3 separate regions of the Homo sapiens genome follow, and regions 2 and 3 are each reported to be linked to region 1. Evidence: microRNA targets listed by miRTarBase, many of them from high-throughput screens and not tested one by one. Region 1 holds a microRNA gene; each other region holds the end of a gene's coding sequence.

The links. The annotated mature microRNA hsa-miR-6856-5p reads AAGAGAGGAGCAGUGGUGCUGUGG and lies in region 1 at 2,540-2,563, opposite strand. An mRNA with a match to its seed (bases 2 to 7 or 8) in the 3' UTR can be bound and repressed. Matches are read on the target gene's strand: a 7mer-m8 pairs with bases 2 to 8, a 7mer-A1 pairs with bases 2 to 7 and ends in A, and an 8mer does both.
Region 2: the mRNA of BGN is a reported target of hsa-miR-6856-5p. Seed matches in the 3' UTR shown: 7mer-m8 at 1,143-1,149.
Region 3: miRTarBase lists MAN1A2 as a target of hsa-miR-6856-5p. Seed matches in the 3' UTR shown: 7mer-A1 at 545-551.

What each region holds. Positions count from the first base shown.
Region 1 is chr9:130,624,865-130,628,864 of GRCh38, reverse strand. It overlaps MIR6856 (microRNA 6856), which reads right to left and starts at 2,568; the gene lies at 2,502-2,568. FUBP3 (far upstream element binding protein 3) reads right to left here. Exons shown (of 19, transcript NM_003934.2): 12 at 2,360-2,501.
Region 2 is chrX:153,507,886-153,512,230 of GRCh38, forward strand. BGN (biglycan) reads left to right here. Exons shown (of 8, transcript NM_001711.6): 8 at 363-1,661. The coding sequence ends at 560. Among named protein-coding and RNA genes, the nearest start is that of ATP2B3, 7.6 kb to the right of the region's middle.
Region 3 is chr1:117,522,082-117,526,426 of GRCh38, reverse strand. It overlaps MAN1A2 (mannosidase alpha class 1A member 2), which reads right to left. Exons shown (of 13, transcript NM_006699.5): 13 at 1-3,602. The coding sequence ends at 3,470. Among named protein-coding and RNA genes, the nearest start is that of TENT5C-DT, 82 kb to the left of the region's middle.

The sequences.
Region 1 (4,000 bases):
CCCAGAGGCGGAGGTTGCAGTGAGCCATGATCACGCCACTGCACTCCAGCCTGGGCAACAAAAGCGAAACTCCATCTCAAAAAAATAAAAAAAAATAAAAAAGAATAGAAACCAAAATGGAGACCATTTCCACAGGCACACGTAAGACTCGAGGGAACCCTACCAGCCTCCAACCAGATCCACTTGGTCTGGAGGCAAAAGCACAAGTACACGAGTGTCTGCGACTGAGAATCCTGCAGTCCCCAGACAGCCGAGGCCCCGGCCCTCCCCACTGGGCCCCTCATCCCCAGGCCTTGGGAACATGCTAATAAGGTGAGGAGGCGCCACAAAACCTCGTGGGGCCAGAAGGAGTTAATTTAAGTTCATCTTCCTTCAAAATGAGGTCACTAGCTTGGCACATGGTGGCTGTCTATAGACTCATTCAGCAGCCCGCTCCATTCTTCTACCTGATGGGGGGCAGAAGTGCCCCACCAGTGGCCCCCTGGCTGGACGTGAAATCGTAAAGCAATTAATCAAACCTGCTAAAAGGCCTGGCTGACAAGAGCAGGCTGGCTGAGCTATCTGTCAATGTTGCTGTGTTTATCATGGAAATCCAGCAGGGGCCAGGGAGGCTCTGTGTCTGTCCAGGCCAGAGGCCAAGGAAAGATGGGCCTGGCTGCGTGGGGCTCCTCTCTCCCTTGCCCAGGCGCCCATCTCAAGGAAAAGAGATGTCTCACATGGGCCCTGAGGGGTAGGGGGTGTGTGTGTGTGTGTGTGTGTGCGCGTGCGTGCGTGCGTGCGTGTGTTTAGTGCGGTGTGTGTGTGACATAGAAAGACCCTCCCATATCCGAGACACTAATTAGGCTTCTTTAGGCTGCTATTCAAGCATGGGACACAGACCAGTTACTGCTTCGTTCTCATCACTGTTTTCTAGGAATCACTCAGGATGACTTTGTGGAGGACCAACTACGAGGGGCTGCTCTGTGAGCACCAAGGGCTCACTATGAGAACCTGTCATGGTGAGGCAACAATGCTCAGTCAGGGTTTAGAGACACAAGCAAATGAAAACTTCGCCGACAAAATAGTTTGCAAAAGGCCAAGAAATCTAGATCTAGCTAATCGTCAACCTACAGGCATCAACTAGCTGCAGTCTCACAGCGGTCAGGCTGACGGCCTGGGTAGTGTGGGACTTCTGGCAGCATCTGGTGCAGCCTGCAATATCCCCAAACACTCACCAGCCCGCACACCTGCCGGCAAATGAACACGAACCCATACCAACTCTGAGTGGTTCAGTCTAAAAGACAACACGGTTTCTTGCATTTTGCAAGAGCATAAGCCCACAGTGTCTGTGAGCAGGGACGAGGGCAGCTCCTGGGAGGTGAGTGTCGGGGGGCTCCCACCTGCCCAGCTCTGGAGGTCTCTGCTGGTGAAGCATCCCCAAGTCCTGCCTATCCAATACGAGCGCCCCTCAAGCAGCTAAGGGGTATTTGGTGATCAAAGAAATTTGAGAAACTCTGGAGAGACGACTGTTTTCTCCACATGCTGTCAAATACCTAATGAAGGCAAATACGAAACCCAGTGACAACGGGAGTCCCCCGCTGGCAGCGAGGCCTGGCTCAGAGCCCCACGGAAGCCGAGCCCTGCTGCTACACTGGGAAGGCCCCACAGCCTCGGCCCTGGTCTCAGTAGCCTTTCTGGGTCCCAGGGCTAGCCAAGATGAACTGCTGCCAATGGCTGAGAAATGTGGCTGCTCTCTCCTGGTTCTCAGTGAAGGACAGGAAGGAGCTACAGTAGCCATGAATGAGGGTTTCTTCCTAATGTTCTCCAAAATGCCCAGAAAAAACTAACACATCAATGTTTATTTCCCTCCACAGAGAGTCCGTGACTCACGGTAAATATGCAGAAAGGATAAAAACCATTTTCACATGTTACGCGGATCAAGACCAAATACTCAAACCTGGTAAGGGAAACAAGTGACACACTGTCGAGAAGGAATTTTCACTGAGGATACTGTCTCAACCGTCCCTCTAAGTTCCTTGGAGGTGAGTTAATTACCAATCAGTCGATTGACAAATGCCCCCCATCTTGCGCAAGGTATCTTTTCACCAAGCTAAGCTGCCCTCAACAGGCAGGGAGTTTTACTGCTGTCTCTTCATACTCACCAGAAATAATACACTTTGCTCCTCACAACAGGCCCGTCAGCAGCCTCAGAGAACCATGCCAAGCAGGGTTTCGGCAGAAGGTGGCTACTGCCTCCAGACCGGGCAGCCCCAGCCTGCAGCAGCAAAGGGACCTCACCAAAGGTTCTGGAGGTCCCGTGACCTGCCTTCCCTCAAGCCAAACAGCTGAGGGGGGATGTGAAACCCCAGCTGCCTCTTACCTTTGCCTATGACGAGGCCACACTTATCGGCTGGCACCGTGTATGTTATCTCCTGGACGCCACCAGGGGCTCCCACGCTCCAGTCGCCACGGCCACGACCTCTTCCTCTGGCTGCTGCCAGGCCTCCAAAGCCGTCTCTTTCCTGGAAAGATCACAGGGCTGTAGCGACCTCTGCCACTGCCACAGCACCACTGCTCCTCTCTTTTCCAGGGAGGAGGTTAAGTGACAGGATGTAATCAATGCCACCCATCAGAACCTAGCACCTTTCCACACTTCCCATTCTGAAGGGCTCTTTCAAGCCAGAATTAACACCGATCACAGGTGTATCTGGGGAGGACCTGTGCAGACGAACACACGTGGTTACATAAACAGCTCAAATGTATCCAACAGAAATAGGCAGACACAAACTCCAAGGCTGAAGCCCAGCGGCCTTTCTCCCTGGAGCTTTCCTCACTGGGCCCCGATCTACAGGCATCAAGAACTGCTTTCTCCCTTGCAGCTGAGGCCCCTCTTTCCTGCGGCGGACACATACTGGGCCTATGGGAAGTCAGATATGCACAGCCTGCTGACCCTCCCCAACCAGGCACTGCTATGAGTCACAACACCTGGCACTCCAGTCAGCAAGAAGGATAAACGGATTTTACTCAGTTTTAGAAAACTTCTTGGCTGTTGTGCCCCCAAGCAGCAGCAGCAGTAACAGGTTCAAGAGTGACCATTCAGGGATACTTCAGAAGGGAGGAACAGAGGGAACCTGCCAAGGCCTCCTCCCCATGTGGGGCTGGAGAAGTCTCTGAGGCATTCTCCCACTGTTCACCCAGCAGAGAGAAAAACCTAAATCTAACAGCGGACAGAGGAAGAGCCCTTTCATTGAGACAGCAGCAAGTCTCATTCCAGCCGCTGTCCGCGGAGTCATTTTGGAGCTGCAGTATTTAAACTCTCTTAAATGTGGAGGGTGAACCTGGTCAAGCTAAGAGCTATTTCATGGAAGGGAGAAGCTGCACAGACTTTTCAACACATGAAGAAATGTTGGGCAAAACCTGCTCATGTTGATTAAGAGTAAAGTGAACGTTTACCCAGAATCTAAACCAGCAGAAAGCTGAGACAATTGGAGTGCTTTTCCCCCGCACTCTGCTCTTATGAGACAACTGCCAAGTAAACAAGGCAATTTTAGAATGGATGTTCACACACGCACAGGAGCGCACAGTCAACTTTCTGGGTATGCCACAGATCTCGAAGAAAAGGTTTTCTCCCAAACATCTCGCAGCCTCTGCAGTGCAAGGTTCATAAACTTTTTTTGAGACAGAGTTTTGCTCTTGTTGCCCAGGCGGGAATGCAATGGCAGGATCCTGGCTCACTGCAACCTCCGCTTCCTGGGTTTAAGCAATTCTCCTGCCTCAGCCTCCTGAGTAGCTGAAACTATAGGCATGCGCCACCACGCCCGGCTAATTTTGTATTTTTAGTAGGGACGGGTCTCACCATGTTGGTCTTGAACTCCTGACCTCAGGTGATCCACCTGCCTTGGCATCCCAAAGTGCTAGGATTACAGGCGTGAGCCACCACGTCCAGCTAATTTTGTATTTTCAGCAGAGACAGGGTTTCACCATGTTGGTCAGGCTGGTCTCGAACTCCTGACCTCAGGTG
Region 2 (4,345 bases), not on the chromosome of region 1:
CCAAGGGCTCTTTCTCCTCTCATGCCCCATGGAGTGTGAGGGTGCTCCCCCGAGGCTCAGGCCACCTTTCCTCCACCTCACACCACCAAACACACCTCTACCCCAGCCCCGCCCCCACATGTCCTCAACCTGACCCACCTGAGACCCTCATCCTTGTCCCTGGTCACATCCAGTGCCTTAATCCTGGCTGACACCCACACAAATAACACGCCCATGCCTTGGTTTGCTCCTCCCAACAACGGGGAGCCTCTGGTGTGGCCCTTGAAGTAGGGTGCAGAGGCAACAGCAAAATGCCTCCTGGAGGCAGCGGGCTTGGCGTGGAGGGAGGGAGGCCTGCCGTGACCCGGCCTCTCTGCCTTCAGGTGGTCTATCTGCACTCCAACAACATCACCAAAGTGGGTGTCAACGACTTCTGTCCCATGGGCTTCGGGGTGAAGCGGGCCTACTACAACGGCATCAGCCTCTTCAACAACCCCGTGCCCTACTGGGAGGTGCAGCCGGCCACTTTCCGCTGCGTCACTGACCGCCTGGCCATCCAGTTTGGCAACTACAAAAAGTAGAGGCAGCTGCAGCCACCGCGGGGCCTCAGTGGGGGTCTCTGGGGAACACAGCCAGACATCCTGATGGGGAGGCAGAGCCAGGAAGCTAAGCCAGGGCCCAGCTGCGTCCAACCCAGCCCCCCACCTCGGGTCCCTGACCCCAGCTCGATGCCCCATCACCGCCTCTCCCTGGCTCCCAAGGGTGCAGGTGGGCGCAAGGCCCGGCCCCCATCACATGTTCCCTTGGCCTCAGAGCTGCCCCTGCTCTCCCACCACAGCCACCCAGAGGCACCCCATGAAGCTTTTTTCTCGTTCACTCCCAAACCCAAGTGTCCAAGGCTCCAGTCCTAGGAGAACAGTCCCTGGGTCAGCAGCCAGGAGGCGGTCCATAAGAATGGGGACAGTGGGCTCTGCCAGGGCTGCCGCACCTGTCCAGACACACATGTTCTGTTCCTCCTCCTCATGCATTTCCAGCCTTTCAACCCTCCCCGACTCTGCGGCTCCCCTCAGCCCCCTTGCAAGTTCATGGCCTGTCCCTCCCAGACCCCTGCTCCACTGGCCCTTCGACCAGTCCTCCCTTCTGTTCTCTCTTTCCCCGTCCTTCCTCTCTCTCTCTCTCTCTCTCTCTCTCTCTTTCTGTGTGTGTGTGTGTGTGTGTGTGTGTGTGTGTGTGTGTGTGTGTCTTGTGCTTCCTCAGACCTTTCTCGCTTCTGAGCTTGGTGGCCTGTTCCCTCCATCTCTCCGAACCTGGCTTCGCCTGTCCCTTTCACTCCACACCCTCTGGCCTTCTGCCTTGAGCTGGGACTGCTTTCTGTCTGTCCGGCCTGCACCCAGCCCCTGCCCACAAAACCCCAGGGACAGCAGTCTCCCCAGCCTGCCCTGCTCAGGCCTTGCCCCCAAACCTGTACTGTCCCGGAGGAGGTTGGGAGGTGGAGGCCCAGCATCCCGCGCAGATGACACCATCAACCGCCAGAGTCCCAGACACCGGTTTTCCTAGAAGCCCCTCACCCCCACTGGCCCACTGGTGGCTAGGTCTCCCCTTATCCTTCTGGTCCAGCGCAAGGAGGGGCTGCTTCTGAGGTCGGTGGCTGTCTTTCCATTAAAGAAACACCGTGCAACGTGGCTCCGTGCGCTGCTCCTGTGGCGGCCTGGCCTCTCCGTGCCCCTCCTGGCCCTTGGGCTCCTTGCCCTCAGAAGAGGGGCCCCGTCACCCTCAGAAGAGGGGCCCCGTCACCCTCAGGTCTGGGCTAGCCCGGACTAGGGAGGTTTCCCCTCCCTTCTAGACACTTCCATGGCCCCAGCTGTCCTGAGACGCGGCTCCAGAATCCAACCAGGCCTGAATGGCACCTGCCCTCTCAGCGTGGAGCGTTTGCCAAGAGCACGCCGACTGCAGGGCGCCAGGCTAGAGCCTGGAAATCTAAGCGGGGCCCGGCCTGCCCAGCTCCATGGAGTCTAGGGTTCACAACGAGGCACCGCCAAAACCCAGGGGGTGACACAGGAGGGAAGGGGCCCAATGGAGCCAGGGCAGGGTGCTGTGTGCACCCACTTGCACTGGCCTGGCCTTGGCTCCCCTGCCAGCCCCCTGGCAGGTGACACTGTGTGTAGGCAGAGCCGAGCCTGGGCTGCAAGGCATTCCCACACACGCAGCATCCAGAGAGAGGATCCAGGTCAGGGCCGGGAAAGCCTGCATGCTGGGGACACAGGTCGTCCTGGAAAGGACAGCTTGGAGGGGGACAGTCCCCAGAGCAACGCTACCGCCTGTGACTTTCCTTCGGCCCTGCACGAAGAGCCTCAGAGCAGGTGGCGGGACCTGGGGCTTCCCTGGGCAGCCCAGGCTCCCAACGGAAATAGAGTGGGCAGGGCCCGCGTGAATGGCAGCCTGGCACTGCGTGTTGGCTCCTCACACATAACTGCGTCTTTATGGCTGGACTGGCACTGGCGCACTGGCATCCCCAGGTTTCTCCTTTCTGGGATAGGAGGTGCCACACAGTGTGGTGGCCCAGTGATAGAAAGTCACCATCAGCATCACAGCACTATTCTGGGCCATGTGCTCTACGGCCCGGCAATGTCTGCTGAGCTGGGCAGGCATGGTGCAAGGGAACTGGGCAGGGGCCGGGAGTCAAGGCTTCGGGCAAGTCCCCTCGCTGGCTGGGAGGAGGGGCAGCCAGCGCCACGGCCTGGCAGAGATGGAAAGATGGGGCTTCCGCCCATTCATCTGTGAGCGGGTCTTGGGGCATTGGCTCTGTGTTCAGTGGGTCCAACACAGCCCCCGTGAATCTGTCCACTCTTCCTGCCTCGCTCCCATCCTTCCTGTGCCTCCTTTCCTCTCTGTCTGCCTCTCATTTCATGCACCTTCATCACACCTGTCCTCTGCGTGTCCCAGCTCAGGGATGCAGTGTGGGTGGAGGACAAGCTAGTGGGATGAGTGTGATATGGGTGGTCAGTGCAGAGGAAGGCATCCTGCAGGCTGCGTGCTTAGCCCACACAGCAGGGGGTGCCCTGCAGGCAGCACACACTCTGCCTGGACTAGAGTGCCAAGCCCCCGAGGCAGGAGCCCAGAGCTGGACAGGGTCACAGCCTGCAAGGGCTTCTGGGTCGTGGTGGAAGGTGAGCTCCATCCTCAAAGCAGTTGGTCCTGACCACAGTGTGAAGATGAATCACATAGCCTCACTCTACCGCCAAGTGTGGGAAAAACTATTAGCTAATACTAGCCAAGGTGAGACTGATTTGGGCTTAAAAAAGAAAATGGCTAGGCGTGGTGGCTCACGGCTGTCATCTCAGCACTTTGGGAGGCCAAGGCAGGAAGATTGCTTGAGGCCAGGAGTCCAAGACCAGCCTAGGCAACATAGTGAGACCCCATCTCTAAAAAAGAAAAAACTAAAAAATTAGCTAGGCATTGTGGCACACGCCAGTGGTCCCAGCTGCTCAGGAGGCTGAGGTTGGAAGATCATTTGTGCCGGGGAGGTTCTCCCGGCAAGCTGCCAATCCCCCACATTTACTTGCAAGTGGCTTCGAAAGTAGGACTGTGCTCAGGGCCCCAGCTGTGGCATAGGAAGGCCTAGGGTGGACAACGGCTGGGCTGCAAGTTCCAGCCGATCTTTGCTTGAGTAGGGTCCCCTGAACTTGGTGACAGATTGGGTGTAGTGTGAGAACGGGGTTGGTTGTGATGCTCCGTGGCCTGGAGAGGGGAAGGGGACCCTGAGGACCACCACCTGACGGCCAGGAGCATTCCGGAGCTGCTGGAAGGCAGCAGGCGTGGGCTTACACACGTACACACACACATGCACGAACACACGTGCACACGCACACAAATGCGTACACAAACACACACGCACACATGCACACTTGAACACACAAACACAAGCACACAGAAACAAACATATGCCGCACAAACACATGTGCACACAAACACACACAGCAATGCAGGTCACAAAGCCGCTTCCTCGGGGAGTGGCTGTGGAGGGCACAGGGCCGCCGTGGGGCCGTTTCTCAGCATTTGCTGCAGGTCAGGTGCCTTCTGGGCACAGCAGGGCCCAGCGGGAGCCTAAGCCGAATCCACTGCTACGGTTTAGACGAGTCCGGGCTTGTCAAAGGGGCAGCGAGCCAGACCTTGGCAGGCTGGGCCCACGATGCGGGCAGGACCCCTGAGGGACACGACCCCTCCTTGGAGGGCTGCAGGGGCAGGTGGCAGGCCTGGGAGCCAAGTCAGAGGGGCTGCCCTGAGGACTTGGCAGTGGCCTGGTCTCCAGGCTCTGCTCCCACAGGCTCCAGCTCTAGTCTCAGGAGGCAGGGACCACAGGAAGAGG
Region 3 (4,345 bases), not on the chromosome of region 1:
TTAAAATATATTATAAACCTTTTCTTTTTCCTCTTTAATTTATATGAAATATAAAATTAAGAATTTTGTAACACGATTCATATTGGAAACATTTAAAATGTTGTGAGCTACTCTCATACAGAAAATGCTGTGGAATCACATAAAACATTCTAATGATTGAAAGTGCCAGGCACAATGCTTGGCACATGTTAGATACTTCATAAATGTTCGTTCACACATTCTCTCATTTACTCATGCACTCATTCAAAAAACTCCAGGCTTAAGGAGAAACTGCATTATAAATGAGAATGGCAAACACAATCTTTTATCAACAAATTTGGAGTTTTGACAAAGACTTTGGCAATGGAGAGTGGAGAAGATGAGAGGATGATGATTAATATTTCAAACTGCTTGGTTAAAATCTAGCAAGTATAGCCCTGAGTTGCTCTATATGACATCATAGAGGATCAGGGTCAATACTCCATAAAAAGAATGCATTTCCCTTCGATACCCAGGTTTTATTTTACATATAAACACCTGCTTAAAGTCAGGAATACGCTGATGTTAGAGAGATACAAAATGTGCAACCCACAAGAAAGTAAGAACCACCTGACTGGGGACTTATTTTTCTGAGTTGAGACTTCTTTTTGGTTAGGGCCCCATTCCCTTGGTTTTAACAACTTAATACTGGTTGAATAATAATAATAATAATAATCTGGTTTAACATAAAAAGTGTGATTCTAAAATGAAGAGAAATAAATGTAGAAGGAAGAACAGTGTTCAAAATTCCTATTTTTTTCGATTATGCACCAACTGATGTATCTATTCTGCACATTTGTGCCAAAGGCACAAGGTAAGGTGTCAGCTCTTTGAAGAGGCACCTGAAAAGGACCATTTCTGGGCTTTTTGCAGAAGATCTTATAAATGCAATGAATATTTAACCTGAGTATTAAGGTCTACAAAATGCAAAGAGCTGTAAAAGACAGAAGAAAGTAAAGAATATTCTTGGAAGCTAAGCATTATATGGGATAAGAATTGATCTTGAAGGAAATAATTTAAAAATCTATAACAAAAATAAAACATGACACTGGCAAGTCATTTGTAGCTGACTTTAATTGCCTTTGGTATTCAGGAGAATAAAAAAATGGAAGTACTTTTATAAGCTCTAGTCTTTCCATCACATAGAAGGTAAGGAGTGGTGAAGAAGACCCTTCCATTGTCCCTGTCAAATTCTTTGTTTGTACCAGAACTGGCTCTGCTTGTATACTTCCCTGCCTTCTCTTAAGCTTCAGTCATCTGGGTAATACAAATAGAGCACTTGGAAGTAGGGGTTCTGTCTCCTCATCCCTTGAGAAGTTCCTGCAGAACCAAGAAGGTCCCTTTACTCTGCATTCTTCTAAATAAGGTAAAAGAGAATTCAGAGAGTTCATTGCCATCTGCACTGCTGCTCTGCATCTTTGCCAACTCAAGTTTTTCACTTTTTCTCAGTGATTCATAAGTGGGCTTGTGCTACTTTTACGAGGAAGGCTAACATTTTTTAGAACCAAATACTTTCCCTTTTCCCTTCTACAGTTACAGTAATATATATACCTTTCTCATTTAGAAATTTAAATGTTCAAGTAGTAAAAGATATTACAATGTCAAAACATGTGCTATAATTTAACTCTCTTAAGGACTATTGTAACTGGCCCTGCATCCTTATTTTCTACTGAAATTTTTTTGCAGTGAAAAATTTTATACTGAAAAAATTTGCAGTGGTTATCATTTACGGATCAGTAGAACTGTCAAAATTAACGATTCGTGGTATAAGATGATCAACCTTAGAAAATACTATATTAGTTAATTAAGTCTTTCCCCAACTTAAAACCTAAGTTTAAAAGAAAAGCTTATCAAACAAGAAAATAAGCCTTCAGAATTCCAAGGTGGGCTTCTTGTACAAACTTTGTTTCAGGAAATCTTCAAATTCAGAGTAAATGTTATACTAATTATACTGTTTCTAAGTTTTATTAATGTCAATGGAAGATGCCTATATTAAATGAAAAGAGCAAAAGTATCTTGCACTGTCACATAAATTTAAGGACAGAAAATTTATAAGCACTAGATATTTATCTTACAGTTCCTGATAAAATTTAAGTTCTTTTTGTCAAAATATAAAGAACTAGTAGTTTATTTAAAAAGAAATATCAATGCAAAACCTACTGATAGTAAGATAAAGTTCCTTAGATGTATCCCAATTTTAGTGTAATATGATTAATTACAACACTCTTTTATCACTGAAAATTATTTTGAAACTATTCTGATTCTTTGGAATTCTATAAATATTCTTGGAGAAAATTAAAAAAACATAAAATATCTGTGAACAACTCACTCATCTGATGAGATTATAAATAAAAGATCCCCTGTCCCTATTCCAGATAGAATATTTTAGAAAGTTTCACTGTTTGTTCTGCTTTAGTAAGTTATAAAAGTAATTTATTTAGCTTATCAAGGCAAATTTAGAGCTGCCTTATAGTGATTTTTGCCAAGCCACATAAATAAAGTTGTAAGTTGAGTGACTCTACTAACTTTATTATGAAATTAAAGTGAATAAAATTTACTTGGTAGATGTGTTGGTCTGGAAAAATAATGTAGCAACAAAACCAAGGATTGCTCTTAGGTTTCAAGGCAACAAACTGCGGCATTTTCCCCACTTTCTGTCATGCTACCAACACTAGACTGAACTACATGCACAAAATCCCAAACCCAGGCTCATAAGTGGTGATTATGATAAATAGCAGTTTCGATGATTCCATAAGAAGAAAAAGACTTGAGTATTCTTTGTGAGATCATGCCCCCAGAGAAAATTAAACTTAACCAAGAAATTTCAATGAAATAGACTGGGATTTGAAATGGTTGCCAGTCTGGTCATCCAATGGGGAACTTGAAAATTCAGATAGGGATAGGTACTCCTGTTTCTTTTTTGAGTCTTCTTGTTACTGATATAATTATACTATTCTTTTGTTCTTGTTTATTTTAGTTCATTCCATTATTAAAATGGAGAAAAAGTGATAAGCAATATGTAAATATTTGATTTGAATGCTGCTCCACTGTAGGAGGAAACAAATACATAATTGGTTCCAAAGGCCATCTTGAACTCCTGCAAGGTGCTCTATATTCTTGACTTGCTTTCAGGAAGTCTAGCCTCCAGACTTCAGGACTCTAAAAACAATACAGTAGTAACAGGTATCATTTCTCATGTGACCACCTCATTAACGATCAAAGCACATCCAGGTCTCTGTCCTACACATATCAGAACATGTTTTGGTCAGGTATAAAATGGAATAATTTCAAAGTTGATGTATCTACAAGTTGAACAGTCTTAGGGGGAATAGTTTCACCCTGTCATGTTGACATAGAGGTCCAGGTTTTCAAAAGCCGCCCCTTCAAACTAATTTCTGTAGTGGTCCATGTAAACAAAACACAGGTGAGAATGGTCCTTCTGGAACTGCTTTCATCGAACAGCAGGATTACCTGAAAGTGTGGTGTTGGCTAAATGTAACACAGGCAGAGGGTGAGCCTCTGTATTAAACACCCAGTGGTCTAAAGGTAAAAGGTCATCACCGGAGAACAGCAGATACAAATATCTGAAAATAAAAAGGGGAGAAATGAGCTTCAGTTAGAATTCAACAAGAACATGAAGTGAGCTCACTTTTAATGGCACAGAAAACCAATAACGTATTTTGAGCAGCTTTGATGAAAAACATCAAAGAAATAAACCTCAGACACCCAAATGATCTAAACACAAAGACAAGAGGTTTCAGAATAGTGTATAAGAAATCCAGTAAGATGAACAACTAGACCTACTGAAATAAAACAGTTTAAAAAAAAATCCGGCCAGGTGTGGTGAAGAGAGCAGACACCTTTGTCTTGTTCCTAATCTTAAGAGCAACACATTCAGTTTTTCAATATGATGTTAGCTGTAGGTTTTTCATATATGCCCTTATCAGGGTAAGAAGTTTCCTTCTATTCCCAGTTTGCTGAGAGTTTTTATCAGAAATGGGTGTTGGATTTTGCCAAATAATTTTTCTGTCTACTGAGGTGGTCTATTTTAGTTCATTGATTTTCAAACATTAAATCAACCCTCCACACCTGGGATAAACCCATTTAGTCATAACATATTATCTATGTAATTTGTTGTTAGAGTTGATTTGTCAAAATCTTGTTTAGTTCTATCTATGTTCAGGAGGAATATTGGTTCTGATGAGGACTCTGCTGTCATTCATTTTTTTCCATAAGTTACTGGGGTACAGGTGGTATTTGGTTACATGAGTAAGTTCTTTAGCAGTGATTTGAGAGATTTTGGTGCACCCATAACCTAAGCAGTACA